Linked DNA regions of Homo sapiens. The protein of the gene in region 2 purifies or fractionates together with the protein of the main gene of each other region. This does not show direct contact. Each region holds a gene or a part of one and is shown on either strand. Other genes may lie near its edges. The genes, in order: TNPO2, VSIG2, CIP2A, TNPO1, CDS1, XPO7 and COG5.

What was found.
Region 1: the proteins of VSIG2 (region 2) and TNPO2 purify together in Homo sapiens (affinity purification with mass spectrometry; 3 studies listed by BioGRID and IntAct, with this or other methods). This does not show direct contact.
Region 3: the proteins of VSIG2 (region 2) and CIP2A purify together in Homo sapiens (affinity purification with mass spectrometry; 3 studies listed by BioGRID and IntAct, with this or other methods). This does not show direct contact.
Region 4: the proteins of VSIG2 (region 2) and TNPO1 purify together in Homo sapiens (affinity purification with mass spectrometry; 3 studies listed by BioGRID and IntAct, with this or other methods). This does not show direct contact.
Region 5: the proteins of VSIG2 (region 2) and CDS1 purify together in Homo sapiens (affinity purification with mass spectrometry; 3 studies listed by BioGRID and IntAct, with this or other methods). This does not show direct contact.
Region 6: the proteins of VSIG2 (region 2) and XPO7 purify together in Homo sapiens (affinity purification with mass spectrometry; 3 studies listed by BioGRID and IntAct, with this or other methods). This does not show direct contact.
Region 7: the proteins of VSIG2 (region 2) and COG5 purify together in Homo sapiens (affinity purification with mass spectrometry; 3 studies listed by BioGRID and IntAct, with this or other methods). This does not show direct contact.

The regions. Positions count from the first base shown.
Region 1 is NC_000019.10:12,699,491-12,703,544, forward strand, and holds part of TNPO2 (transportin-2), read right to left. Parts: intron 4,037-4,054; coding exon 3,938-4,036; intron 3,429-3,937; coding exon 3,333-3,428; intron 2,688-3,332; coding exon 2,582-2,687; intron 2,362-2,581; coding exon 2,262-2,361; intron 2,183-2,261; coding exon 2,108-2,182; intron 1,964-2,107; coding exon 1,856-1,963; 3' UTR 1,836-1,855; intron 1,754-1,835; 3' UTR 1-1,753. UniProt on the Homo sapiens protein: Probably functions in nuclear protein import as nuclear transport receptor. Serves as receptor for nuclear localization signals (NLS) in cargo substrates.
Region 2 is NC_000011.10:124,749,202-124,754,048, reverse strand, and holds the start of VSIG2 (V-set and immunoglobulin domain-containing protein 2 isoform 1 precursor), read left to right. Parts: upstream 1-1,793; 5' UTR 1,794-1,911; coding exon 1,912-1,972; intron 1,973-2,468; coding exon 2,469-2,626; intron 2,627-3,127; coding exon 3,128-3,335; intron 3,336-4,182; coding exon 4,183-4,341; intron 4,342-4,847. Other genes in the region: ESAM (endothelial cell-selective adhesion molecule precursor), read left to right, coding at 88-403.
Region 3 is NC_000003.12:108,564,979-108,569,032, forward strand, and holds part of CIP2A (protein CIP2A), read right to left. Parts: intron 3,337-4,054; coding exon 3,177-3,336; intron 1,661-3,176; coding exon 1,519-1,660; intron 477-1,518; coding exon 377-476; intron 1-376.
Region 4 is NC_000005.10:72,910,487-72,915,268, forward strand, and holds the end of TNPO1 (transportin-1), read left to right. Parts: 3' UTR 1-3,902; downstream 3,903-4,782. UniProt on the Homo sapiens protein: Functions in nuclear protein import as nuclear transport receptor. Serves as receptor for nuclear localization signals (NLS) in cargo substrates.
Region 5 is NC_000004.12:84,638,506-84,642,559, reverse strand, and holds part of CDS1 (phosphatidate cytidylyltransferase 1), read right to left. Parts: intron 3,637-4,054; coding exon 3,568-3,636; intron 1,723-3,567; coding exon 1,570-1,722; intron 1-1,569. UniProt on the Homo sapiens protein: Catalyzes the conversion of phosphatidic acid (PA) to CDP-diacylglycerol (CDP-DAG), an essential intermediate in the synthesis of phosphatidylglycerol, cardiolipin and phosphatidylinositol.
Region 6 is NC_000008.11:21,917,829-21,922,587, forward strand, and holds the start of XPO7 (exportin-7), read left to right. Parts: upstream 1-1,833; 5' UTR 1,834-1,942; coding exon 1,943-1,960; intron 1,961-4,759.
Region 7 is NC_000007.14:107,557,034-107,561,087, reverse strand, and holds part of COG5 (conserved oligomeric Golgi complex subunit 5), read left to right. Parts: intron 1-2,972; coding exon 2,973-3,112; intron 3,113-4,054.

The DNA.
Region 1 (4,054 bases), on a different chromosome or scaffold from region 2:
GAAGAACCAGGCTCCCCTTCCCTGAAGGTGTTTGTATCCCCCCATCTTGAGTAGCGAGGGGTTACCAATCCCATCAGACAGCCAATCCATCCACACACCCCAAGACCCAGCAGAGGATGCTTCAAAGAACTGGAATTACCAGAAAATTAAAAGGTATTTTTAAAACTTTTTTTTTTTTTTTTAACAAATGGCTTCCAGAGACCTGCTCGAGTTTCATGGGGTGGGCGTGCAGGGACACCCAGCTAATTTATGGAATGTGTACTGAGTGCCCCTTGGAATAGATGCAGGGCCTGACCCTGACTATGGAAAGACACAGGGCTTGGATGGAGGGTCTGGCGCCCAGGAGGGATGGATGGAGCAGGCCCCAGGATGCGAGACTCCAGTCAGACTCCAAAACACAAGGGGCTCCCCAAAGAAGTAGAAAGCAGGGAAGGAAAAAAAGGGAAAAAATGCTAAGGGGGTCTGCAAGGCCCAGTTTTCTGGCCAACTGGGAAGTAACTACACCCCCACCCTCTCTAGGGGAGCCCCTTCCACCTTGACCATGTTCCCAGACTATTCCGGAAGGTTCTCTAGAATTGCTGACCCAGTCTAGTAGGATCTCTGGGCTCACTGGGTACTATGATGAGCAGGAAGTCCCAGGGAGATGGAATAGGGAACAGGGGACACACCACCTTTCCCTTCCACCAAGCCTTGGTTTTCCTTTTTGCTGGCAAAAACCTGTGTCCTCTGTCATCATCAATTAAACGCCCCTGCCCCAGGCCTTGAGTTAAAACTGGGGCCTGAAACGTGAGAAGGGGGTTTCAGAAGCACAGAGAAACGGACTGCCCCTGAAGCTGCTTACAGAGAGAGATGCTCGGGGTAGGTGCCAGTAGCTCTGGCTACACCCAGCTCTCTTCAGGAAAAAGGTCCCAACCCAGTGTCTTCAAAAGCCACTGGAGCACACAGGAAGGAGAAACGGTGACCTCTGGCCAGCCCCAGCCACTCCAGTGGTTCTCACCCTGCGAGCTAGGCTAGGATAAGGACGGAGACACCACCAGCTGAGGCTGCAACAAAGCTGGCAGGGAGTGTGTGGAGTGGGTCCCAAGCATGTGCGTGCTGACAGGGCGACTCCCAAGGTCACCATCCTCCTCCCCCCGCCCCGAGATCCCGCCTGAGGCCCCCCACCCACCCAGCCCTCCCCAGTCACCGCCAATTCCGGCAAAACAGCAGAAGCTTCTTAAACTCTAGATGCAGGTTACACGGAAGGCCTTACGGGTTAACTCAGGGGTTCACTAATTCTACTGTCTCCATGCAGTCGGGGAAATGGTGGAGCGGCTGGCCCAGCCTCGCCGGTTATGGCACCCGCACATGCGTGTGGCCATGTGTGTCCGTGTGAGTGTACGCGTCCCTACGAGGGCCCCCCTCCTGACCTGCTCCTCCCTCACCTCATCCGAAGCCGGATTCGGTCAGCTGTGTAATTCCTCCCTCCCACGTAGCTGGCCCAAGTGGGCTGCCAGAGATGACCCTATTAGAGCCCAGGGGCCCTTGCCCACCAGAAGTCCCCCCCACCTCCCCGTTTGTAGGATGAGCATGGTGGCCCCACCCACCTGCCAGGAGGGCAAGTGGACGGATGGACGGACGGACGGACGGACGGGGAAGGCATCTGGATTTGAGTCCCACTCACTCCTCCCTAACCCCCCTCAACCAGGGCACAGCGACTTCCGGATGCAGCGCACTCCCCAGTAATCCCTCCGACGACGACGCAGACAGAAACCTGCAGGGGGAGGAGGAAGGTCATGGCCTGGGACCTTTCGGCCCCCAAGACAGTGCTGACTTGCCAGCTGCAGTCTCCTTACCTGGCAGTCTCCATGATCACCTAGACCCCATAGAAAGCCGCCAGCCTCTCCTTGAGCAGCGGCGGGAATTGCTCAGAGAACTGCTGCCAGTTATCTTCCCCAACTTGGTCTTTGAAGCCGTGGAGAATCTGTGGGGAGGGTGGTGGTGAGGGGTAGGCAGGGGCAGAACAAGGGGAGTGCGCCTCTTCCCCCATCCCCAGGCCCCATTGTTACCAGATGGTCTCACCCCTGCCTGCTCCCGGAACTAGATCAGGGCCCAGACAGAGCCTCACCTTATAAAACATGTCCCGAAGGTCATCCTTCGGGCTCACCCAGGAGGCTACAGCATCGCAGAAGAAAATAAAGTCCTGAAACGTGACGGATCCCAGGTGAGGGGCCGCCCGAGCCCAGCGCCCGCGCCTGCCCTCAGAGCCCAGCTGCCCCAACCTGCACAACGCCCCCCGGGTTGACACCGATCATCATGCAGATGCCGCGGAAGGCTGAGTCCTTCTCCTCGTTGTCCCTGATGTTCCTGAGGGACGTGCACCTGTGGGAAGGTGAGCAGCTGGAGGTCAGAGGGCAGGCTGGGCATGCATCTGTGGAGGGCTGGGTCACTGGGGATCAGTGAGTGGGCCTGGGACATGCATCTGTGGGGGTGGGGCAGGGCAGGGAGTCAGTAGGCAGATGGGGCTGGAAATGCACAGGCGAGGGAGGGGGTTGGGCCAGTCCCGCCCACCACACAGCAGGCTTGACACGTGGACACACACCAAGGCCGGATGAACTGCTGCAGCATGGGTGCCACCTCCTGGGGGCACACGTAGCCCAAGCGGCCGATGGTGATGGCTGGAATGGCAGAGGGACTCGTCAGGCGACCTGCAACCCCGAGCGGCCCCGGGACGGTACGTGGCGGGGCCTCTGGCACAAGGCACCAAGCCCCGCCCCATGAGCCCCAAGGGAATGGCTACTGCAGCCACCCTGGTCCCCCAAGCTTGGCCCAGCCAGGGGTCCTCCTCATCACACCTGAGTCACTTCCCAGGTCTCTCTGCATCTATCTTTCTTTCTTTCCTTTCCCTTTCCTTTTTGTTTTTTTTTGTTTTGTTTTGTTTTTGAGATGGAGTCTTGCTCTGTTGCCCAGGCTGGAGTGCAGTGGCATGATCTTGGCTCATTGCAACCTGCCTCAGCCTCCCGAGTAGCTGGGATTGCAGGCACGTGCCATTACCCCCGGCTAATTTTTGTATTTTTTAGTAGAGATGGGGTTTCACCATGTTGGCCAGGCTGGTCTCGAACTCCTGACTTCAGGTGATCTGCCTCCCAAAGTGCTGAGATTACAGGCATGAGCCACTGCACCCAGCCTGAGGCTGCATCTTTCTTGGGGCTTCTCCCAGTGACCCCTTCCAGGTACTTCCAGACACCCTCCTTGGTTCCTTGACAAGGCTCTTTCTGATGCCCTTCCCAGCCCAGAACCCCACCTCCAGAAGGCAGGCAGGGGTGCAGGCAGCAGCCGGGCCAGGTGCCCACCTGTGTTTTCCAGCAGTGTCTTGGGTGTGTTGGGTCGGTTAATGATTTCCACCAGGTTGTTGAGGACCATCTGCACATAAGGCTGCATCTCTGCCCCTGGGGGAGCACCCAGTCAGAGCCCTGCACAGCCCCCGCCACCCACAGGGGCCAGGGGGCCGCCCCACCTCACTCACTACTCGCCCCAGTTCCAACTAGAGACTGGCCAACCACTACCAGTGAGGAAACAAAAGACCTTCTCCGGCTAATCCCCACCCAGAATCCCTGGCCAACCAGGGACAGACCCACACCCTCCAAACAACAGAGGCTTCTCTGGAGTCGCTAAGGTGACAACACGCTGCCCAAGTCAAAGGAAAAAAAAAGCCAAAGTCACCCAACCAATCCGAATGAGTCTTTTAGCCAACTACACAAAACGGTCCAATCAGAACAGCCCTCCTATCCCTCCTCTTTAGAGAAGCCAATCACAAATGACCTTTCTGCTTGGCTCCACCCCTGACGACCCCCAAGAGACTTGCCTTGAAGGAAGCTGTCAGTCAGAGCTAGGCTCCCGCCCCCAGGTTGAGAACAGGCTAATGGGGGGCGCGTGTTGCCACTTGCAGGGCACTCACCCATCTGCATGCAGATTTCACCAATGGCCCAGGTGGCGTTGTTGCAGACGGAGATGAACTCTGGGTTCAGGTTGGTGCCCAGAATGGGCATGAACTCGGCTGGTGGGGAGAAACAGG
Region 2 (4,847 bases):
GAGGTGGTATATAAGACCAAGCAGGTAGAAACTCTCTCCTCCTTCCCCCACCCACTTCTGACCTCTTGTTATTTCTTTGATGACTAGGGAGGATGCCATTGCTCCCCGGACCCTGCCCTGGCCCAAGAGCTCAGACACAATCTCCAAGAATGGGACCCTTTCCTCTGTCACCTCCGCACGAGCCCTCCGGCCACCCCATGGCCCTCCCAGGCCTGGTGCATTGACCCCCACGCCCAGTCTCTCCAGCCAGGCCCTGCCCTCACCAAGACTGCCCACGACAGATGGGGCCCACCCTCAACCAATATCCCCCATCCCTGGTGGGGTTTCTTCCTCTGGCTTGAGCCGCATGGGTGCTGTGCCTGTGATGGTGCCTGCCCAGAGTCAAGCTGGCTCTCTGGTATGATGACCCCACCACTCATTGGCTAAAGGATTTGGGGTCTCTCCTTCCTATAAGGGTCACCTCTAGCACAGAGGCCTGAGTCATGGGAAAGAGTCACACTCCTGACCCTTAGTACTCTGCCCCCACCTCTCTTTACTGTGGGAAAACCATCTCAGTAAGACCTAAGTGTCCAGGAGACAGAAGGAGAAGAGGAAGTGGATCTGGAATTGGGAGGAGCCTCCACCCACCCCTGACTCCTCCTTATGAAGCCAGCTGCTGAAATTAGCTACTCACCAAGAGTGAGGGGCAGAGACTTCCAGTCACTGAGTCTCCCAGGCCCCCTTGATCTGTACCCCACCCCTATCTAACACCACCCTTGGCTCCCACTCCAGCTCCCTGTATTGATATAACCTGTCAGGCTGGCTTGGTTAGGTTTTACTGGGGCAGAGGATAGGGAATCTCTTATTAAAACTAACATGAAATATGTGTTGTTTTCATTTGCAAATTTAAATAAAGATACATAATGTTTGTATGAGATAAGAAACAAGTTGCCTTTTCAAACTAAGAATTCTTGAAATTGAGCTTCAGGAGGATGCAAAGTGGACCCCTTCCCAAGCTGTGTACCCAGGAGGGCTTCCCCCCACAGGCTTAGAGCAGCTCTTCTAGTGTTTAGAAGGGTCCTTGTTTGTCACGTGGAGAAGGGGAGGAGACTCTAAGCTACTCTGAACAGCAGAGGGATGGAGTTGATACGCTTTCTGCTGGAGCTTGAGTGCTCCCGGCTAGGGGGTACGTGTACCTCATCTGCTTCCTCTTCAGGGACAGGGGAGAGGAAGCTCACGTGGGCTCCTCTCCCACACCACGGAATCCTTAACAAAACACTCCTTGCCCATCTGGAAGAGATCTCTGTTGTTACTGAGGGAGAGCTGGGCATAGTATGAGGTGCAGGTCTGTGTCCAAGTTCTGCCATGTTCTTTCCTACCAAGGGTGAGGTCTCCTTTAGGTCTCAGTTTCTCTGCCCCTAAAATGGAGTGGCTCTGGAAATGGAGAGATGCTCATTTCTACAGAGACTCCTACCTCAGTAAGTGGTGAAATGAAAAGCGCTGTGGACAGGAAGGGTCTGCGGCCTGGGGCTCACACTCACAGTGAGGCTCCGAGGTGGGGACTCCCCTTGCCAGCTCTGGGGTATCAGGACGCCTTCCAAAGTCAGCTTTCCTTCCGTCTCTGCAGAAGGCCCACCCCAAGCCCAGCGCTTTTCCCAAGGCCGGACAGCTTCAGACCTTGGGGAGAAGAGGAAGGAAGGAGGAAGAAGGGACAGAGGGATTGCAGAATCGGGGCTGGAGGAGAGGAGGGAGGAGCACTTTTTTTTTTTTTTAACCTGCGGCGCCGGCCTCTCCCCTGTTTGCTCTGAGATACCAGTCTCGCTCCTGCCCAGCCCGGGCGGCTGCCCTTGGGTGCTCCCTTCCCTGCCCGACACCCAGACCGACCTTGACCGCCCACCTGGCAGGAGCAGGACAGGACGGCCGGACGCGGCCATGGCCGAGCTCCCGGGGCCCTTTCTCTGCGGGGCCCTGCTAGGCTTCCTGTGCCTGAGTGGTGAGGAGGGGCCGGGCGGGACCACGGCGAGGGCTGGGGGGCATAGGCCTGGCTTCCCCGGCTCCTCGGACCCACTCTGTCCCCGCCAGGCCAGATGAGGCTGCCGTGGGCGCCAGGGGCCCTAAGGCGCCTGAGGTGAGGCCGGAGAGGGGGTGTCCAAGGCCCGGAGGGCGTAGGAGAGAGACCCCCAAGCCGGCGAGCGAGTTGGGCCTCTCCGCGGCACAGGCCTGAACCACCCCACCGCAGGGCTAGTGTTTTCCTTTCTCTGCTAAACACACACACCCTCTTACCTGGCCCGGTTCCGGCTCTTTTACCCACAAAGACCCGGCCCCTCCCGGAAACCTCAGGTTTTGGGAAGGGAGGGGTTGGATTGAGGGGAGAGGGTTGTGCTCTGGGGAGGGAGCCCCCAGCTTCCAATATAGATGCCCGGGGGTGGGCCCGACCCTCCAGATCACTGGAATTTGGGTTCCCACCTCCCTCTGGTCCCCGGCCCCAGGGCTGGCCGTGGAGGTGAAGGTACCCACAGAGCCGCTGAGCACGCCCCTGGGGAAGACAGCCGAGCTGACCTGCACCTACAGCACGTCGGTGGGAGACAGCTTCGCCCTGGAGTGGAGCTTTGTGCAGCCTGGGAAACCCATCTCTGAGTCCCATCCAGTGAGCTGAGAGCGACTGCATGAAGCTGGGTTGGCCTGGAGGGACAGGAGCCCAGGATGAGGGCATGGGGTCGGGAGGGGGAGTTTGGGGATCAGTATGCTTGGATGAAAAGGTAAGTGGGCTCTCCCTAGATCTTTTCAGAGCTGCAGTCTGCCTGACCGTGTATCTTCCTTTCCTCTTCCATAGCTCCTATTTCCAACTCCCCTGCCTTAGTGTATCCATTGACACTAAGGTGTTGTGACTGATACCAAGATAATATGCTGCCTCTTCTGCCTCTCTCTTTGAGAGAGAGAGAGAGAGACCAATGGATCAGGTTCATTTAGCACCTGAAAGGGGGTGGTGTTTGGGGACAGAGAGACCTTTGGAGTTCCAGCTTAAGGGTATCAGCCTCCCTGGCTGATGTAAGTCAGAGGCCTCTTATACCCACTTTGATGAGGAAGGACTGTAGAGTTGATGCCAGGCAGAAACAGGCACATATGTGTGTCTTCTGCCTCTCCCCAGATCCTGTACTTCACCAATGGCCATCTGTATCCAACTGGTTCTAAGTCAAAGCGGGTCAGCCTGCTTCAGAACCCCCCCACAGTGGGGGTGGCCACACTGAAACTGACTGACGTCCACCCCTCAGATACTGGAACCTACCTCTGCCAAGTCAACAACCCACCAGATTTCTACACCAATGGGTTGGGGCTAATCAACCTTACTGTGCTGGGTAAGGCAGACTGGGGATCCACGAGCCACATACTCTTTCACATACTTGGGGCGTTTGCACTGGTCTTGCTAAATCTCTGGTTTCTGACTTTTAGCCCAAGCACACAACTGCACTGGGGGCCCCAAGTGAAAATACTCCCTTTCCAAGTCTTCTAATTCAGATGGTCATACTCCAACTCCACCCTCCACCGAGAGCATCTCCTCCATCAGAGCCTAATAACAGAGTGTGTGAGAGAAAGTCCTTCCCATACATGGGGATCTGAGCCTGCTCCCAGCAGCTCCATCATGGGGGAGGCTCTCATCGGTAGTTGGATTCTGTCCCTCCCAAGGTCAATGGCAGAGAAGGGGAGTGGCCACCAAAGGAACAAGGGCCCCTATTACTGAGCACCAACTTCGTGCTCAGAGCTTCTGTCTCACCCCAAACTAGAGCCTTTTCAGAGATGAGCAACCAGAAAAACTATCACAGAGACTGGCAGTGTTTAGATGGAAAAGAGAAGGCCTCGGATGGGTGTATTACTGCTGGATTCAACTATCCAAAGGGCTGTCATGTGGAGGAGAGATTTTAATTTCTCTTTGTGGGCCCAAAGGGCAGGAACTGAAACCAATGGGTGGAGGTTATGTTAACACACATTTTGGCTCAACATGAAGAAGAATTTTCTCTAACAATCAGAATTTCCAATAGTGGAAATCCCTCAGTTCCTGGGGATGCAGTGGTGTGTGGACCCAAGAGGACCACTGTTTGATAGGGGTATTGAAGTAGAGAATGTAGCACCTAATGGAGTTGGGAGTGGGGCTGGAAGATTGCTGAGGAACTTTCTGTTTTTTTTTTTTTTTTTTTTTTTTTGCAGTTCCCCCCAGTAATCCCTTATGCAGTCAGAGTGGACAAACCTCTGTGGGAGGCTCTACTGCACTGAGATGCAGCTCTTCCGAGGGGGCTCCTAAGCCAGTGTACAACTGGGTGCGTCTTGGAACTTTTCCTACACCTTCTCCTGGCAGCATGGTTCAAGGTAAGGGCCCAGGGCATCAGGAAGAGGGTACTGGAGACCTGGGCAAATCTGGTCTCTAAATCCCACACACCCGTATTATCCGTTCCATGACTAGGGGTATGACACAAACCACTATACCTTTCCCTGTCTCTTCCTTGGCTTCCTGTATTGTTCCCTCCTGCCTGTCTTTCTGCAGTCTGTGGCTGCATGATCCTGGGGGTATTTCTCAAGCTGAATATACTGCTGATATCCTGGAAGAGAGTAGAGGGCAGGGAGCAATCTGATGATGACCACCCATCTGCCTTGGGGAGATTTCTTTTAGGTTTCCTAAGGGTCGTGGACCACTTCCAAACTTCCTAGAGAGGAAACTGAGGCAGAGTAGCATGGACTGGCTGGAATCTTTTAACCAGTTTCTTTGGAGGAGCCTTAGTTTCTTGGCTTCCTCTTCCTGGATCCAGTTCTCTCTCCAGCCCCAGCAAACTCCTTTATCAATCCAGAAATGAATGACCCACCCCCAGATCACCTTC
Region 3 (4,054 bases), on a different chromosome or scaffold from region 2:
CCCCTTAATACCCTACATCAACCCTAACCAAAAACAAAAACCCTAAAACAAATATCACTCTTCCTCCAATGCCAACAGAAACAAATGAAGAAATATACAAATACAACACAAGAAAGGAAAAGGCTGAGGAAGCAGCACTATTGTGAACATTCTCTACATTAGTGTCATGAGCACTTATGTTCAATTCCTGTGAAAGTATATAAAATAACTGTGCAGTGAGACTATTATAACTGCTTAAGACAACAACTTTAAACTTTCTTCTCATTGCCAATTCTAAGAGAATTATCTTCTAAAGATTAAGAATATTAAAACAGAAACTTATATTAGGACCATTTATGTATGAATAAACTTCAATGTTTGAAGAGTTTAAACTCACCTGAAGTATTTTGTAGAAGCTTACTTCCATACCAGGAACCAATGGTTTAAGTTTGTTAATCAAATCAAGAGTTTTCAAAATTACATCAGCAGCAAGTTTGCTTTAAAGATAAATCACATTTAAATTAGATAACTGAAAAATTTCTTAGAGCTTGTTTCTGTCCAAAATTCTAAAGAAAATGAAAAAAACCAACACTTGTGTTTTTTAAATTCAAGATGATAAAGTCCTGTTTCTATTGAGAAGTAAAAATCTCAATCAACATTCTTATAACTCAAGATCCAAAGAGAACAAACTGGCATTAATAGCCTTAGTTTAGACAGTGTTTCTTTTACTACCAACCTGCTTCAACTTTCTGTTTCAAGTAAGTAGTAGTTTCGAAACACAGTTCATTTAATTCTTAGCTTTGTCACTAGAATATCAACAACAGACGGTAACCTTAGGCAATATAGAATATCTAATACGTAATGAATGAATTACACTAGGTCATGTTCTGAGTTTTGTACCTGAAAGTAGTATACAAATATAAAAACAGATAATTCTTACTCTAAAGGTCCACAATTACTGACAATTGTGACATCTGTGGAAACAGAAACAAATCATAGTGTCTACCACTCAGCAGGTCCTCAGTAAAGATTAGATGGACTTAATTCATGAGGAGGGAAGGGGTATAAAGTAATATCTTATTACCATCAGTGAAAATCCACCTTTAACCATAATTCCTGACCTGCCAAGGAAGGAGAGTTGTCTGTTATTAAAAAGCCTTTAGCAGTGACTGATTTCCTTGTAATAAAACTACTCTTCTGTTTTTTCATGCTTTTCATTTAAAAAAGTAAAATTGATTACTGAGGCAATGTCAAAAAGGAGCTCCAGAAATGTTCAGAACCCTTAGATAATTATAGTAAGTTAAAACAAGACAAAACAAACCTAAACAATAAAAAACAACAAATGTTAATACCTTTCTTCAAAAAGCACACAATCTACAAATTGAATGAATTTACAAAAAATTCATTATGAAAATATGTTTGTTAATCTGTTATATCTTAAGTTATAACCAAAGGATGGTCCTCCAAAAGGATGAGAATCACCACATCTTTCGATTTTTTACTGCCTTGCCATTTTGTCATTAGAGTTTATATACTCACCATAATTCAGAATCTGCAACCTTTGTTCCAAATCCCAGGTCAATCTTGCCATATGTAAATTGTTGTTCTATAAGAGTGGTACACTTGACAGTTGTCAAGATTTTTGCAATATGCATTTTTAGTGTATCATCTCCACAGAGAGGTTAAGTTTTGTTAAGATATACAACAAAAAAATTCTCACTTTATGTGTAAAAGATAACATTCAGGATGATTTCATACAAATTATATCATCACTGTCATCCAGTATAATTATTGTTAAATTAGCTCAATGACAAACAAGGAAACTGAAACTCACACAATTTAAATGACTAGCAAGTGGTAAGAGATGGACTGGCACCAAAGGTTTCTGACTCAATGGTTAAAACAGCGAGGATATCTTTCCATTGGATGTCTGTTTTTTGTTAGCAAGAATCTCAATGGTTCAATAAATATTTATTGAATAAGGGTAAGTTGTTTTGTCATATTTGTATATTATAAATTAATGTAAATAGCTATTATTTTAAAAGTTGTGGTCCAATTCAATGAGAAGGCCCCACTTTATTAATTATAAATATCTCCAAGGTCAAGCAATCATGTATCCCTACTGCAGTGGTTCTCAACTTTAGCTGCATGTTAGAATCAACCAGGTAGTTTAAACAATCACAAACAAAAAAGCCAACATGCAAACACACACCACCTAATGATTTCAGGGTTTCACATCACTCCAATTAAATTAGAAACTCTTGAAGTAAGGTTCTGGCATCGATTTTCTTTTTTTTTTTACATGTTCTCCAGGTGATTTTAGGTAGGAAATCAGGGTTGAAAGTCACTGCTTTAAAGGAAGAAAATTAAGGAGCAGTACCTTAGAAGAGGATATTAAACAGGGGTGGAGTTTGCTCTAGGACAGAGTAGAACATATTCTTGTTGCTCTGAGATACAAGGAAACCTGACTAGATACATTTAAGAGATCTGGTTGAGATACAGTGGCTCTTTGCTCATAGTAAAAAAGTATTAATGAAATATTTTAAAATTGGGACTTCCAGCAACTCAGAATTAGTTGGTCTATGAAAAAGTAAACACAAGGAAGACCTAGAAAATCAGTATATAGAAGTTAAGCAGTGAAACTAAAAGGTTTCTTTTTAAATGAATGAATTTGTGTTGATATACTTGTCTTTTCTTATAACCATTATTAAAGCAATTATGAAGGCTTTATTTTTAAAACATAAGGTAAAACAACTGAGCTAAAATCATGACAACTCTATCAGCATTTCTTTATCCACGAATACACATCACCAAAAAATGGCACTACTGATCGTCCGTCCAGGGGAAATAATTAGCATCAAGCAGAAAACAGTAACATGGAGTAACAGAATAGTCATTTTAGAATTTACCACCAAATGTCAAATTGTGATACAAGTGTCAAAATCAAGCTTAAACAGCATTTTAAAAAATGTACTTTAACTTAAAAGTTTCACACAGAAAAATAAGGAAAAAAAATCATGGATCTTTTTCACTCATTGAGAATTTTTTCTACAGTTCAAATTTTAGTTCAGTAATTCTAGATAAATATGAGCATAAAGTGACAAATTACAAATAAAGACAAAATGCAGTGAATGCAATACTAGAAAAAAAAGAATGGTTAGTTATACAGTTTTCACGTTAATGACAGTAAAGGATATTTAACAAAACTTCAATGGCCTTGGCAATCCTTTCACATTTTTTTCTTGTTAAAGCCTCATCTAGATTTTGTTCTGTGAACTGAAGTTGATCAAGGATTGTAGGCAGCAGAAGGGTCACAAAACGATCAGCCGAGGAACAGTTAGCAGCATCTATGACATCCTGGAGAATTATCCATCACAAATGATTAAAAGCAAAGATGGAATATACAATACAGAAAAAGTCATCACTGAATTGTAACACTCTCTTTAAATTTTTTATATTTCCTTCAATATGCCATTGACCTAAGTCTCCTGTGAATATTTAAATTTTTATTTAAAATTTATACTTCTAACCAGTTTTGAGGGCTATGGCTTTTTTCTCAAATTAGACAGTAAGGTTTTACAAATAAGACTTTTTTAAACAGACTTTGTGATTTAAAAATTATTCTAAACTAAAAGTATCTACTGAAAACAAATATCCTGAATCTGCTAAAAGTAATAACAATAATTAAATAATAGACATTGGTCTTAATAGTTTATGACCACAAATAATTTCCCTCAAGACCCTCAAAGGGCTTTTTAAATGTTAAAACTGATTGTTAAATAATCAAGACCAAGATAAAATAGAAAATTTTGTGAATAATTCTTAATGAACATATTTAATCACTTCATACACATATTTGTTTGTGTGTAAGACCCAGTTATGTGAAGGGAAATACTTTCAGGAGATATTGGGTTAGACAGAATGGATTTATAAACAGGGAGAATAGTAGAGAATATTAAATTGCCCAGATAGTAAGATCTACCAGAATGTGGAGTTTTGTCTGTATCTTAAGTGCCTAGCACATTATCTGGCATGCTCTACTCCATTTCACTGACTGAATCCAATATGCCTCTAT
Region 4 (4,782 bases), on a different chromosome or scaffold from region 2:
TTTTAACTCTGCTGGTCAGAGATGAAGCCACGCCTTTCCATTTTTCAATGCTGCATATTTAATCTGCAACAAAAATGTTAAGCCATAACAGCCTTTTTATATTTTAGTTTGTCACCTTTGCATTGCAGAATAAATACTGAATAACCATTTTTATAAGCAGTTGCTCCTCTTTGCATGGTTCTATTCTCTAAAAGTGTTGAATGATACAGCCATTGCACTGAAGTTTGAGCTGTGTGCGTGTGAATTTATACTGTTTCAAAAATTTCAAATGCATGGTAGCATGTAGAAAGGTTTTTGTTACTATGTGTGTGTGTGTGTTTTGTTTTGTTTTGTTCTGTTTTTTAACGTTCTTTCACCTTTCCTCTACTTTGGCTTTGCAAATTTCAGTCTGTAGAGCCTGAAATTAAATTATTTTATAGTGCCTGATATTTTTAATATTATAAGTTGGATTCAAAGGGTATACAGCATTTTGTTTTCTAGTACCATTGCTTCACTGGGAGCTCAAAATTTGCCTCCCTGTTAGTCTTTAATAACTGAGTAGAGTAGCTTTTTTATTCTTAGATTATAGTGATATTCTGTAGTGCTTCAAATACTTAGAATTCTAATATGAGAGATAGTTTAATATTCTGGAATAGAGAGTATTTTAAATTGAAATGACCAAATTCGATTTAAAACAAACACATAACAATCTTCAGTAAAGTTATTTGAACCTGTGGTTGACAATTCTGTATTGACTAAAGGCAATATTGTCACCTGTCTCATTAAAAATTAGTTTCCAGTTAGGCAGATGAATAACACTATTAAAAATGCACCCAGTTTTGTAGTCACTTGACTTTTTTTTTTTATTTAAATGAAATTTAATTTGAAAATAGAAAATAAAATTAGGTAAATATGACTGGCAACCTGAATTTGAGTTGGGATTCTTTGTGTATTTTTCCCCCTTGAGGTTATTGTTTCTTCCTAATTTATATTTCAGATACATAGTGTAGAACAGGAATTTGCAGAAGCCATTTAAGTTATCTTTTGAGGTAAGCTCTGATTTAGCATTTATTCTGATAAAATCTAATACATCATGGGATATATATAAAGCAACTTAATTCTTGTGGTGTAGTCTTAATAGTTTTGAATGTTGACTGAATGTCTATAAAATTGTGAGTTTGTCTTTGTTACATTCCAGTGTTTCTGCCTCTTGGCATGCTTAAAGCACGGCTTACTTCATCTGCTCCTTACACACTAAAATGCTGTTAGTGTGCTCAACTACAGAAATAGCCGCTGCTAAGTGATGTAGATTTTCTACTTGAATATTTTTATGTTGTAGGAACCTCAGGAGGTCAGTGTTTACTGTTTTATATATGCCTTCTTTTTCCTGTTTGAGCTTCTCTCTTTGAAGGATTCTAACAGAACAAAGCTGCTGATCAACCTAAGTTGGAAACAGAAAGTGTAATTAATATAACTTAAATGCATGTTTGGCAGTTCCATGTTACAGTCCATTAGCGAGTGAACTTAGTGCCACAGGTATTCATTTATTCAGGAAAGAATTTTGCTTTTTGTATTGTCTAATCTCTTCAATGACTTCATACTGTGTAAAAAAAAATCACTTTTTAATATTTTTTGGTTGGTTATTTCCCAAATAATCAACATGTAAATAATCTTTTAAGAGCCAGTTCTGATGCTTTACATTATTGCTACTTGATTTTGTTATGCAAGTTAGATTTCAGAAGAATAGATTTTAAAACACTTAACCAAGCCATTACATCTTAAAAACAAAACAAGTAGCATACATTTTGTAATTAACATTGATAAACACTGTGATTTTTTTGGTTAAGACTTTTTCATTGATCTGAATTGCTTAAATTGCATATATTGTAAAATAGGATCAGATGTATATTTTAAACTAATTTCAATGGATTTTCCTCTTGAAATGCTTTGTCTACTCAGTTATAAAATATTCAGATACAAGTTTTATCTCAGGTGAATACTCTTGTATTGTTTTTGCTTTGGTGACATGCTTATAAAGGGTCATCCTAGTTACATTCTTTGTTTTTTAAGTGTATTTCATTGAGAATCTTTCCATTTAGTCTGATTTTTTTCCTAATATTCTAGCAGGCTGGGGTGGTATAAAGCCCTCCTGACAAGCCTTTTGCCTACAGGTTTACCTGAAAATGAGCTACATATGGTCGTCATTTTCTTCAAACTCTCAAAATAGGAAAGTGGAAATTTTTCTCCCCTATATAAAATTATTCTGCCTAGCAGAAATGCCAGAAATAAATTAATTGCATCTTAGTCTAAATTTAAGTCCTTTGCCATGAGGAAAAAGTGGTTTTTTGCTTCATATGGTAAATCTATATTATTCATATTGAATGTATTAACAGATAATGGTGCAAAAGCATTCTTCCCAGGGGAAGAGTGTATCATGCATAACTGCAATTTAAGTCCTTCCTTTGATAATACTTCAAAACATACACAGCTTTGCTTACTGAATTATTTTTGCAAATAATACAAGGAGGGGAAACTAACTTGCTACTAGTGTTGTTAATGAAGTATAGGCCTTGGAACATTTAAGAAAACTGGTCTTCAGATAGTTAAGGGCTTGGGATAATTTAAGTGAAAAGTGAGATCAGTAATGAGCTGTGTTGTTAACAATATTATCTGGTAATAATACCATGCAATATAGCGTTGTATACCAACTTAGTGCATTTTATACTGTATTAAATATGGAGATACTTCTAATGCCTCTCTAAAATTAAATTTTACATAAAAGTTAGTTTTATTCACCTTTAGGCTTTCCAAGTGAATTGTGACTAATTTTTTCAATCTTACATAGATCTTTCACCCATTAGCATTACTTACGTAGATAATTCTTTATGCCTAGTTATTATACATATTAATTTTTAAGGTATACATTTAAATTACACAATTGTTCATTGTGGTTTGTATCCCAGAATGTGTTGTGTTTTTTAAAAGATGCATAATAGCTGAATGTATGCATGACTTTGAAAGAAGTTAAAATGGTGATTTTTTTTCACCTCTTGTACATTTTAAAACCAGGCCAAATCTATTTGCCAAGCAGTGTATCACTAATAAGAAAAGCAGTTTTTCCTTTTATTGCAGTTTTTGTTTATCTGCCATAGAATTTCCTTATACTGTGGCTTGGTATTATTCAAGATTAGCTATTTCGCTGGTATTACATCTTTTTAAAAGCCTATTATAACATGGTTAGCCTATAAGGCAGTGTTGGTCCCCTTCTAATATTGGCCTCATAAAGGGGTTCCACTGTACTTTCCGCATATTACTGTGTTGTTGTTTTCCTTTGTGGATATATAAGCAAATTGAGCTTGGGTGATTTTTATGGAGACAATAATTAGACAATACTGTATAATTAGTTTTACTTAATAGATTATCATCTTGTGAGAAGAGATGTTTAAACGTGGTAAATCACTTCATATTACAAAACAGTTTTACACTTAATATGTTAACATTGGGTGCAATAATTTAGTAGCATTAGCTTTAGTTACAAATATAACTGGATCTTTCTGCTGACAACTTAGGTTGTATGAGTTATGCTTAAAAGCTTTAAATCTGATGTTTCCTGTACCTGCCACACTATGTTAGAATGTGTCCTTCAAACATATCCTCCTGCAACTTCTCAAACTGTACTAAATTGATATTTCTTGAAGTCTAACTCTGTGCTAACAGATCTCCATTTTAAATAGAATACGGTTTTAATTTTTGATAAGCTGCTGAATTTTAAAGAGAGTTTTTTGGGGCCACCAAATATTTTGGATCATGCAGAGAATATATATTGTACTGTAGTAATTTTGTATTTACATTTGTATGATGTGACATAATAGATGTGAATGTTAATCACTGCTTGACTATGTTAATAAAGTTGTTTAACTATAGATGTTGCACTCTGATTTTTAATGAAAGGAAATGAGTTTTCTTTTTCCCTCTTACCCCATTTTGGATCTAGATAAGCCTTATGTTTTTTGGGATTTTTTTCCTTGTTTTTAGTTTGAGGTTTTGTTTTGTTTTTTCCTTAGCTTACACATTAGTACACTTTTGTTGTTGAACATCATTTATTTCTTAAAACAAGTGTTTTCTTATTTGTATAGTATAGTAAAAACCTGTTTTTCCACATTTTAACTTAACTCCTTGATGTGTTTTAAACAGTTGATTATAGGTTCTGCTGTTTGAGGATAGGGGACATACTATTCTGTAAAAGGAATTAAAGGCGAAATTGTGAATATAAAAAGTTGATGTAAGGAGAGATTGCATGAGTGTGTATGAATGTATGTCCTATTAAGGCTTCCTCTTTATCCTTCAAACAGTTAAGATTTGTAATTTGGGGAATTAACATTTATAAGAGTAATTTTTTCTTCAGGTTGTAAGGCATTAATATAGTTGCATGTTACTAATTAAATGTATTAACACATTTCAGGGAGTATGTGTGCATAACTGTCATGGTTTTTTTTGTTTTTTGTCTTGTTTTTGAGATGGAGTCTTGCTCTGTTGCCCAGGCTGGAGTGCAGTGGCACAGTCTTGTCTCACTGCAACCTCTGCCTCCCGGGTTCAAACGACTCTCCTGCCTCAGCTTCCCAAGTAGTTGGGATTAAGGCATGTGCCGTCACACCCGGCTAACTTTTATATTTTCAGTAAAGATGGGGGTTCACCATGTTGGCCAGGCTAGTCTCGAACTCCTGGCCTCAGGTGATCCACCTGTCTCGGCCTCTCAAAGTGTTGGGATTACAGCTGTGAGCCACCATGCCTGGCCTTGTCATA
Region 5 (4,054 bases), on a different chromosome or scaffold from region 2:
AAAATAAGTTGCTTAAAGATTATTATCAAAATGAGCATCAGTGAGACAATCACTAAAGATTTGGGGAGACAATCATAAAGGCTGAGAAGAATTTTGTAGTCAAATTATTTTGCAAATTTGTAGTTCTTGCTCCTTTTTAAATAATCTGAAACTACAATTTATAGACAGTGCAAAATGCACCCATTTTGGTTGAAGAAAGATGTCTGAGGCACCAATTTTTTTTTTTTTTTTTTGAGGCAGAGTTTCACTCTTGTTGCCCAGGCTAGAGTGCAATGGTGCAATCTCGGCTCACCGCAACCTCCGCCTCCCAGGTTCAAGTGATTCTCCTGCCTCAGCTTCCCAAAGTAGCTGGAATTACAGGTGTATGCCACCACGACTGGCTAATTTTTTATGTTTAGTAGACATGGGTTTCACCTTTTGGTCAGGCTGGTCTGGAACTCCTGGCATCAGGTGATCCACCTGCCTTGGCCTCCCAAAGTGTTGGGATTACAGGCATAAGCCAATGTGCCCGGCTGAGACATCCATTTTTTGACCTGTTCTCAAAGCAATAAATAGCCTTGCTCCTAATCAAACACTAGCAGTATAAAAAGTTTTATAGCAGGTAACAGATGGCTTGGACATTGAAAAAGTTCTTGGAAACCATGTACTGAGCACTCAGAGAGAAATAATTTGTTAAGCTACTCCTCAAAAATTATGGATTTTATGTAAAATGATTCAGATACAAAGCTGTACATGTGTGCACACAAAGATACAGACATACATGCTATTATTTGATTCCTCACTTTAACCAGCCACTCACCAGACCTGATGACACAGATCAGGAGGGTTCCACTGGAGGGCATGTCAACATCCTCTAGTGTAAGGCCTCCAAGATACCTTTCAAGGAAGGCACTGTATTTGGAAGGAAAACTGATTTGTAGAAGCAGCAACTTTCTGTCCATAATAAATGTCCTCTAAAAATCAAGGACTCGGTAAACTGGTGAATTTTAAGTTTTAAATTGTGTCAACTGATGTCAGTGATATGAGAAACACATTCTAAACCATTTGATCCATTTGATTTGTAACCCGTTCTCATCCATTTGATTTAAGCTAACACTAAAACCACTGGTATATCAAAGAATTAAAAATTCTACAGAAATCAGTTTCTTGTACAAATCTGAATCCCACTTTTAAAGAAAGCTTAATTAATCTTCAGGCCAGGCACAATGGCTCATGCTTGTAATCCCAGCACCTTGGGAAGCCGAAGCAGGCGGATCACTTGAGACCAGGAGTTTGAGACCAGATTGGCCAACATAGCAACACCCGTCTCTACTTAAAATACAAAATTTAGCGAGATGTGGTGGCGAGCGCCTGTAATCCCAGCTACTCAGGAGGCTGAGGCCTAAGAATCACTTGAGCAAAGGTTGCAGTAAGTTGAGATTACGCCACTACACTCCAGCCTGGGCAACAGAGGGAAACTCTGTCTCAAAACAACAATAAATTAATTAAATAAATAAATAAATAATAAAGGAAGCTTAATCTTCAGAGTGGAAGATCTCTAACCATGTTTATCTTGAACTTTTACTGTACCTGTCTCAAGACTGCCTTTAGAAAGGGTGGAAGTGAGTAAGTCTGAAGCTGGAAAAGTTCTGAGGGCTCACATTCTGTCACGAAGGAGTTTACATCACTTCGGTATTCCACTGGGCAGACAAAGTACTGGTATTTGGATAACACATAGGCAGCCTGATATTAAAAACAAAACAAAACAAAACAAAAAACAAAGCAAAAGTTCATAACACATTGACTAAACATATATCTTTTAAGTTATACATCAGAAAGGCCAGAGATAGAATGCCAGAATTTCTTTGTCTTAATATTTTGCTATGTATTTTCAAAGTTAAATGGTCATAATTATCCTAGTAAAAGACTTAAAAGACCTTTAGAAAAAAAAAGTTTTTTTGAAATCAATAAGATTGTAATCTCTGCATAATCACAATTATACGGTACAGGAGAATAAAGAACTGAAGTATACTGCACACAAGCTTCTATTAATTTCATCAGTTAATAATTAACCAGTAATTCAAAATTACAATAAAATAGTACAAAATAGTACAGGTTAAAAACACCATTGTTCTTAGCCAACCCAGAAAACTTTGACTAAATTATTCTTTCCCTGGCCACACCATTGCAATTTTTAAAACTAGCTGTCCACAGCCTTGGAAATAAGATACATAAAATAAGATATCCTGTTATAAATTTAAATTGCTAGACAACAGCTTATTCTCCTTTTCTTGCAGCCATTCACCCTATTATTCTGCTCGAGAATGAGTAATAGAAATTCAAGACACTAGGAATGAATATAAACTGATTTTGCTTCCAAACAACCAGTTTATTTTATATATATAAAATATATATTATATATATTACATATTATTATATATATTATATATATATAATTTCATATAGATGTGGAATTTCCTTCCTCATTATTTTGTCATGCATTACATGCTTATGGGGTAGCTCCTACTTTTCTTCCAATGATATGGCTATTCCTGTGGTATTTTCAAGTTAGTCTTTGATAATAACAAATTCTTACACTATTTAGCTTCATAATGTTTAATTATTCTCGCTTTGTAATGTAAAAACATTGGATGAGATTGGATCCTTTTGCATTCTTCTATCTGTCCATTATTATCTCATCAATATTCTACCACAAAAACACTGGAATAATTTTATCACATTTTATTAAAATTTTCATTGCAAATGAACTAAATTTATAAATTAAATAGAGGAATTCTGGTGGTTTCCAGGATCATGGCATATTTCCATTTATTTGTATATTCACTCTCTCCAGGCTTCATGTTGTTACTAGGTACTCTAGATTTGGATACAGAATGTAACCACAACTGTCAGAAACTAGGAAAAGTAAAGCTTCCTGACAGTACTTTTTTGTACATTTATCTTATATCCAGCTATGGTACTATACTCTCATTCTCACTAGACACCTTTTAATAAAAATCTAAATCCTATAACTGTAAACTAATTTGTAAAACATGAAAAATAGCTATTTAACATGCTAAAAGCAAACATTAATAGTTTATAGTTAGACTGTTTCTGCAAGTTGGGCCCACAACAGTAACCACCCACTGAGCCAAGTGGCCACCATGTGTTTAAGAAGGCAGAGCTTTTCAATAGTATTTGCATCCTCTGCTATTACACAAGGCCACCACCTGTCCCAGTACTTGTGCCCCGCCTAAGGCAGAATAGCTGTTAGAAACTACCAAACACAACAGCACAACAGTAAGTCAGCAAGTCAGCAAGACAGCATGGATGGCCATTAGAATTACCTGGGGGTGTTAACTGGCCTGGGATAAGGCTGAGACATAGATTTTGTTTAAGCTTCTCAGGTGATTCTATATGTAGCCAGGATAAGGGCTGCTGAGGTACAGAACTGGTTCTTTTCAGTAGGTTTCAATAAATATATTATTAGCATTTTGTGGTTTAATTTTTCTAGGTTTAAAATTAGACCAGTAAGCTTGGTATCATATTTCGAAATGTATACAAAATAAAAATCTTAGTAATACTCACAATGAATCCAAACACAACTGTGGAAAAGAAACCACCAATGAATCCTTCCCAAGTCTTTTTAGGAGACAACTAAAAAAGGGCAAATAAAATTAAAAAGCTTTACTGCACTCACAAAACTCACAATATATATATATATATATATATAAACTATTTCCTCAATAACTTGTACATCTCTCCTTACTTTTTCTCTTATTGGAATAGTTCAAAACCCTTTTTCCTTTTCTCTGATCTTGATTTACTAGTGAAAATCTCTCTAATAATATTTAAACACATAGTAGGCCCTCAAATATTTGAAATGCTGTGAATATGTGTTTGTTCATGTTAAATGGTCTAAATTTGTTCTGTCTCTCAAAAGAGTATAAACTCTATACTAAAATAACTGTCCCATGACTCTTATGCTAATATAAAACCTGATAATAGTTGGTGTAAGTTCTTGGAATAAGAATGAGACGTATTCATTCCAAGTACACACAGTCAGTATTGACCT
Region 6 (4,759 bases), on a different chromosome or scaffold from region 2:
CAAGGGGCAAGACAGGAAGCAGGGAAACTAATTAGGAATCTATTACCAGAGCACAGGAGAAAGGTAATGGTGGCTTGGACCAAGGTGTTAACAGTGGAGATGGATGGAGAAGTGGTCATATTGGGTATATATTAGATATAGATTGAACAGGACTTGCAGGTGACTTGCATGTTGGGGACTGATAAGACTTGAAGAACCAACTCCTGAGTGTTTATTAGGAGCAACTGGATGAATGGTGGTACCATTTACTGAGGAAGGGAAGACACAGGGAGAAACACGGGGAGGTTGGGGTGCGGGGGTGGGGGAAGGGAGGGTGGACAGAAATTTGGGCCTGGCCCACTGTGAAACTGTTACCTCTATTCAGTCCAGTAGGGAATCCAAAGAATTTCCATTGCAATTGTGACTCTGAGAATATTTCATTGCCCGATGCCAGGTTCAGAAAGCCACTGACCCCATCACCCCGCCTCTTTATACGCTCGGAGCTAATGATTGGACGCTGGGAGGTTTTGGGGAAAAACAAAAACCCAACATCTGAAAAGGTCTATGCTCGCTAGAAGTTAACAGTCAAAAGCTCTGCCACTTAAATCTTCTGCCTCTTAAATCTTCTCTGAGTCAGCCTAATTGGCAGAGCCTAATTTGCATACAGAACCCTAGCTGCAAGGAAGTTTGGGTAATGTAGTTTCCAGGTGCCCTACCTCTGCAAACCAGGAAGACCTACTAGGAGGACGGAAGTCGAAATGAATGCTGAGCACCGGTCCACTACATCCACCAAGGGTGTGTAATTCACTACCACCATCATTTGCATATGATGGTAGTCCCCTGTAAATACAAACTTCAAACAATCAGTGCTCTCAGAATCCAGCTATGATCTAACCTGGGGGCCTTAAAAGGAAGCCACAGTGGAATCCAATGGAAAACAGGAACCGGCATTATCTAACAGATAATTCCTAGTGAGGAAGACTGGAATTGGCCTCAGCATGCAGGGGCTGACCTTATCTGACCCAGAGAGATGGCTTTCCCACTCATACCTCCACAAGACCGAGCCTAGGGGTCCTAACCACCAGCCCCGCTGCCTCTTCCAGCATCTGACCCTCTCGGGAGGCAGTCTAGAGTATTGGCAACGAGGACAATGTCTTTGGGAAGCCAGAACTGTGCCTTCGTATGTTTTGATCATCACCACCATTCGGTGGTTATTTCCATGAATGTTTATCAAGGACGAAAGGACAGAAATGAAAAACACGAGATCAACCACTGGGGTTGCTGGTGAAATCCAGACCAGAGAGCGATGGCCCTGGTCCAGAAAGCTAGACAGACACAAGCACAGAATCGGCCCCCGTTGAGTAGAGGGCATTGGAAAGTAAGGAATCTCGCAGGCAGCCTAGGTGGGGTGTGGGGGGTCCCCGTAGCTGCAGGGTGGGGTGGGGGTGGGGGTGGGAGACGTCCAGGGGCGAGTCAAGGGGGAAGACGGTTGGGAAGAGAGGAAGCCACTGGGTGCAGGGGTCCCGGGGCGGCGACAGACCTCGGCCCCCATCCAGGAGCCCTCACCACGCAAACGAGCAGAAGGCAGCGCCAACTCCCACTCCAGCGCCCGCCTGCCGGAGCGAGCGCGGCCCCTTTAAAAACCATGTAAACAAAGCTTTGTTCCCCCAGCTGCCCCTCCTTCGCGCTCCCCCGGCCCGCTCCTTCCTCCCACCCGGCGTCTCCGGGCCGCTGACGTTGCCCGCGCCTTTACGCCGTCCCAGCGGTGCTGCGCATTCTCCAACCACGGCCCGGGCCGCCGGGGCCTGCGCAGCTGAGCGGCGCTACGCCACGAGCGCAGCGCGACGAGTCCCCAGCGCGCAGGCGCAGCGGCGACGGCGTCGGCGGCGGCGGCGGCAGCGGCTCCGGCCGAGGTGCGCGCTGGGGGGGAGGGGGGGCCGGAGAGGAGCATGAATGGAGCAAAATGGCGGATCATGTGCAGGTGAGAGGAGCCGCGGGGGGGAGGGGGCGACCACGAAGAGCGGCGAGTGGAGTCGGGGGTGCACACGGCCCACAGGGCGCCAGCCGGCTCGGGACTCGGCAGGCCCGCGCCGCCGCCACTCGGGGCTCTGGAGCCGCCGCCCGTCCCGGAGCCCCGGGGCCTTTCCCGCCTCCCGGGCCGGGGGCCTTCTCCGTCCCCTCCCACCCGGTCCCACACCTCGCGCGCGGGGCTGCAGGGACAGGAACGGGCATCCCGGCGCGCGCAGCCCACAACGTTCGTCAGTCACTGTCTTCGTCCCCGGGGGAGGCCTCCGTCAAGTCCTCGGGCCCCCCCGCCCGCCCCCCGGTGAAGCGAGGGGGACCCCCTTGCTGACTTTACTGAGGGGGACGCCCCCATGACGCCCGCCATCCCTCAGCAGATAACAAAAAGGAAACCTCGCGCTGATAAACCTCGCTCTCCGGAGTCTTTCCCGCCGCCTTCCTCTCACGCCCCGGAATACGAGAGACCCCCCAGCAACCCCGGCCTCCTTCCCCCTCCCACGGATGCGCCCTTCCCTCCGACACTCCAAATCGTACAGCCCGGAGGGCCGAGCTCCCCGGTCTTCCAAAATGGGTGCTCAGGCCTCGGCCCGCCTCCCCTCGCGTCCCCCTAGCCACAGTGAAGGAGTTGAGCGCCCACACCTCCTATGAAACACGGGGTGGAGGGGGGTGTGTCTGAAATGAGAGATGCAGGGTTGGGTGCAGACGTTGCTCGGGAGGGTCTTGATCCGGCTCAAGAGCTGCTCCTAGCGTGCTGTGGGGCCAGGCCACTCTCCTCAAAGACAGGCACAGGCCCTAGAAAGGGACAGCCCATACCAAACCCAGTAGCAGATGGAGGACTGCAGGGTTTAATTTCTTGCAAACTAGATAAAGTTTTTCCTGTCTGTGCCAGAGATCTGATATTTTTATGACAGTTATTGATGCACATCCATTGTGGGGAACCTTCCAATTTTCTAGGTAACCAAGTGCACAGGTTTTGTGTTGTGGCAAGGAAAGATTAGAGGGCAAGAAGTGTCGCCTTTATATTCTGTGGCATCATTCCTCAAGTAAGAAGAATGATCTCATTCTTAATACGTCTACAAGAATCTGGAGTGGTGTGACTTCTGCCCCTTTCTTTGGAGAGAAGGGACTAAATAAAAGACTTAATTTTCAGGCCAGAGATCAGTAAAGTAGATCTTCGGAGTGTGCGGGACAAGTTGTCAGGACAGAATTATAGCAAGAAACGTAATCACAGGTGGAAAACCACGGGATTTGTGTTTCAAAGCCAGTACCTTGGCTTAATTCAGAAGTGACAGTAAAAGTTGATACAAGGAGATGATAATAATGATAATAATAATAGTATAGCACCTTGCGTTTTATAGCAGTCATTTCTAAGAAGCATGAAATATTTTATGTGATTTTTAAAAATTCTTGGATCTTACAAGACTCAGGCAGGAATTACTTCTGTCATTTAAAGGAACAAAAACCAAAGCACAAGAATGATAATGAGATTTGGTTAAGGTAAGTCTAAGTGTCCCAAAGTCTTTGGAGTTTGGGTCCAGTGCGCTTCCTTACTGGGGGTTGGGGGGATGTCTATGAGCATTCTAGAACAGGCTTTGAATAGATAGCCTTTGTGAACCATGCTTCGGAATGCAGAGGGAGTCAGTACTTTTATGAATATACATCGTGCTATTTGCTGTTTCCCGTAAAGAAATATCTCTTAATGTGATCTCCCACATTTTCGAAGCATAAAGGTTGTCATTCCTGTGAAAGTCAGGATGCATCAAAGCAATCTTCACAGCATTTGTCGCTCCAACGAAGGTCTGTCTTATTTTTAGTAAGATGTTGTTCTCCCACTCACCACTCAAAAATCTACGGAAGTAAGAATTTATTAACTTTTCAAAACAAAGGGGAGCATGTTGATCAGTGTTTTATTGGTACCCTTTATTTACTTTTAAGAGCTGCAATCTGTTGGTCTAAATTAGTGCTTAGTGGTCTTCATATCAACGGGGTAAGTTTGTGAGTGAATTTTTTTCCCTTTAGAGAGAATGGGACATACTGCTTTTCTTTGTCAGACCACTAAGTGTTAATAGTATTGGGCACTCACAGATGTTAAGGTGGTACTTTATTGTGGCAGAAAACCTTCTTATGAAAAAGATACACGCTTCCCTAGGTATAATGAGTAAATAAAGGATTCATTAAAGACAGTCTGCAATGCATTGAGGGGAGGGTGGCGGGGATATTTTTCTTATAACACTAATCAAACGTGAAGTTTATAAAGGTGTCTGCTACAGATTCATGACTGATTATTGGAGAGTTGCATTTGTTGAACTAAATAGTCGAGTCATTATGTTATCTAGTGCTTTTCTGAACCACCAGGGTGAGCAGTTTTTTCATAATTGAGGCTGAGTGTCATATGATTCTCGGGTTCTCTCAGGCTGATGTCTTGGATATCTCTCTTCTAAGGATATGTATTTTATGGACGATTTTAAGTGCTATAAAACTTTAGTAATGGGAAAATTATAATATTTGGATTGCCCTTTAGCTCTGTTGATGTTACAGGCAAGTGTCTGTAGAAGTGTGCCCTTAAGCAGCTCCTCGATGTGATGGGTTTCTTACTCTTGGTCTTAGATAACCTTATCTAACTTTCACCCTGAAGGCAGGGTGGTTACAAAGCTTTGCGTGGGAGAAAAAAATCAAACTTACTTATGTGTGTTTAATTATGTTTAGTTGCCCTTCCTTTCATGTTTTTTTTAACATATCTAAAGCTGGTAAGTTATCG
Region 7 (4,054 bases), on a different chromosome or scaffold from region 2:
TACTTTCTTTATCCCTTCTTTTGGCTTTTGCCATTCTTTTTTGTTTCTCTTTCTCCCTGAGCACTCTTTAGTCTCTTTGATTGCTTTCATTTTCTCTGTCCACCCCCCACTTTCCTATCTTCCTCATTTTCCTGCCTTTTTGTGCATTCTAAAACTTTTTTTTCCTAAATCATCTGGTCTTGTCTGTGGTTTCAGTATGCTCCTTACCTGTCTTCTGAATTATAAAACTATATTTTTAACTGCCTACTGGACATTTCTATCTTAATTTTTTTATGATATGCCATTCCATAACCTGTATGGACATTTCTATTTTGATAGTAAACAAGCAGTGCTAGTTCTATAATACACATGAAAACCTACATATGAACAAATAGTACAAGGTTTACATATGAAAAAATGAAATGAATTCACTTTTTCTGTTCTTCTCTCCTAATCTTTTCCTCTGGTAGTTTCTGTTATCTGTGTTTACTATGTTGTTAGGTAAATGTGTGCTTGTTCCCCTTGTAAATTATGAATTCCTTGGAGGCAGAAGTTTATGTTCATCTTGGTATATTCAGTGTCTAGTGGTCTAAGTTAGTGTAAAACTAAATTTCCTGTATCAGTTGCTTAATCCAGAAATTTGGGAATCCTTGTTTGTTCTACCTAATCACCCATTTTCAGCTTGTCACTAAGTCCTACATCCTGTGCAGTGTGAATATTTGTCAAATTTGTCACTTTGACATTCTTAGTGCCACTTATTCAGGTCTTAGTCGGGCCTTCATTATGTCTTAGGCTGTTAACATAGTACTTTACTGGCCTCTGTGGTTCTATTTCTTGGGTGTATTGGTTAATTGGCTTTGTGGGAAAATAGAAAAAGCCCTGATTTTTGTAGTGTTTGCTGATTACCATGGTGTAAATACTCTCACCATCGTAGATTTTAAGATATCTGTGTGAAAGGTCAACTGGCTCACAGAATTCCTGAAAATGTAACAGTCTGTGCTCAAGAGCCAATAAGAGGCAACTTCAGCACATTGCTGTGTGACTAATCCTTTTTCCATCATCCTCTATACAGCTGCCAGGATTATTGTTCTGTAACATAAAGCTGATAGTGCAATTTCTTGGGTTAAATGAGATATGGTTAAACATTTCAAATGTCTTACAAACCTCTTTTCAAACTGCGCTCCAACCTTTGGAACCACATCTGTCATTCTTTACCATTTCTGTCCAATATACATGTGCTATGATTTAGACACACTGAAATCAGTATTCCCCTTGTTTCTCAAAATATGCCATGGCATTTGCCACTGCTAAACCTTCCCTTTGCTTGGAATGGCTTTTTTCATTTGTCTGGCTGACAGGACTCTTAATTCTGAGAAGCACTTGGCAAATCAGAAGGAAATGTGGTTCTCAGACTTAAAAGCAGCCAAAGTAGCAGTTTCCTTCTTTCATTCCACTACATTTTAAGAATAATCAAGAGTATGAGCCTTTACTTTTTGTTGTTGGTTGTTACCAGAATGATACTAATGATACATCAGCTGATGTATAGATTAGTTAATTCATGGAACCTGCCATGTGTCTGGTATTGTTCAGACACTGGAGAAGAGTTAGCAAACAAAACAAAGACCTTCTTCCCCTCTTGGAGCATACATTATAGCAGATGTAGACAATTTAGGTTTTCTTAAAAGTACTCTATTTTGTTTGTTTCATAATCTCTCTCAAGGCAGCTTTACTTGTATCTACTGTATCATTAGGAGATTTGGTACATGGTTACCATGAGCTCCCTTCTGGGTATCTATTTTTAGCTTTCAATTCTCTTAATTTTTCTTTCATCCACATATTTGTGGATTTCTATATTGAGGGGTATCTTTTTAACATCTGGTATTACTTCTGTTTTCTGTCTATTAGGGGCCTATTTTAAACAGCTTTTCTTTCCATTAACATATTTCACCCATAAATCCTAAATTTCAGTAACACCTATAAATTTATATTTCCTATTGTTACTAAAATTCCAGATTCACTTTGCTATAACAGTATTTGTGTATTGATCTAGAGATATCTGAGGCCATAAATATTACATATGTGTATATATATATATAGAGTCAATTTTCCTGTTGTCTTTTCACTGACAATGATCTTGTTTTCTTGGATTAATAGTTATAGCTAGTAGTTATGGTTTTTTTTTTTTTTTTTTTTTGAGATGAAGTCTTTTTTTTTTTTTTTTGGGACAGAGTCTTGCTCTGTCGCCCAGGCTGGAGTGCAATGGCGCAATCTCAGCTCACTGCAAGCTCCGCCTCCCGGGTTCACGCCATTCTCCTGCCTCAGCCTCTCGAGTAGCTGGGACTACAGGCGCCCACCACCACGCCCGGCTAATTTTTTTTATATTTTTAGTAGAGACGGGGTTTCACTGTGCTAGCCAGGATGGTCTTGATCTCCTGACCTCGTGATCCACCTGCCTCGGCCTCCCAAAGTGCTGGGATTACAGGTGTGAGCCACCGCGCCCGGCCAGAGATAAAGTCTTGCTCTGTCACCCAGGCTGGATTGCAATGGCACGATCTCGGCTCACTGCAGCCTGTGCCTCCCGGGTTCAAGCTATTCTTCCACTTCAGCCTCCCGAGTAGCTGGGATTACAGGCACCCGCCATGATGCCCAGCTAATTTTTGTATTTTTGTAGAGATGGGGTTTGAGGTTTCACCATGTTGGCCAGGCTGGTCTTGAACACCTGACCTCAGGTGATCCACCCACCTCGGCCTCCCAAAGTGCTGGGATTACAGGCATGAGCCAGTGTGCCTGGCCAGTCGTTATGTTTTTTAATCTCTTTCTCAATGTTATACTTCCTTTAGGGTCATGATAAAAGTAAGCATTAAGCAGTATAGTGGAGTGGTTCAGAGTATGGGATCAAAATATGTTAATTATGATTATAATTGTTCTGTTGTTTAATAACTGGTTTAGTACAGGGTAATTAAGGACTTTTCCTTATTTTTTCCCCAATCCAGGGTGTTATAGTGACTTTTTAAACGAAGACTTTGATGTAAAGACTTATACTTCTCAATCTATTCATCAAGCTGTAATTGCTGAACAACTAGCAAAACTTGCCCAAGGAATCAGTCAGTTGGACAGAGAACTACACTTACAGGTAATTCTGATCTTCTGGGTCCCTATGGATTATTCAGCCTAAAGTGATAATTTAGCATTTTTGTAATCTTATTAAATACAAATGCATATTTACATGAAGAAGTACATACTTACCAGTGTGACTTATTTTTCAAAGTAAATTTTTGAAATTTTCTGTAAACCACTTTTTGTTTGTGGAAAAACTAATATACCACCTCACCAAAGCCTTTCATTCATACTTCCTGTTCACCACCTTAACTGATGTGCAACGAATATAGTGGGCAAAAAATAGGATGTGTTCGATAAAGATAATAGAAAATGGAATTTTGGAAGTAAAACAATATGAATAAGAAAAATTGGGATGTTACATTCGCAATTCATACTTTATTAGCACAAAGTGTAGCATTTGCTGAAATTACAGAAAGTTGATAAATGTTATTGTGAGTAGGATACAATATGAGATGTTAGGCGACGGGTCCTAATTTCAGCTATGCTGTTGTTAACTGACTTTAATATCACTTAAAGTCTTTGAGTCTTGCTTTTTTGTTTTTTAATCTATCAGATGGGTTGGAATAAGCAAGAGGAAGAGGAGACTGTAGTAGATAACTTTGAAGATTCCCTCCTCTACTAAAATTCTGTAAATTTTATAGGGCGATTTTATGGCATAATTTCTAGTGTTGCCTTTGATTGAGTAGGTATTTAATACATATTTAAATGAATGAACATATGCATGAAACATAGATTGTTTACCAGGAAACATAGATTTGGTATAACCTGAGACATATCCACTTGATCATTTTTGTGTCTTAGTTTCTTTGAGTGCCTTAGATAGGACTGGGATGCCTTCTAAGGTTATTTTAACTCTAAAATTCTGATTATGTATCATTTGATTTCAATCTTTATTGACAGATATTTAGAAAACACGTTTAGGCCGGGCGCAGTGGCTTATTCCTGTAACCCCAGC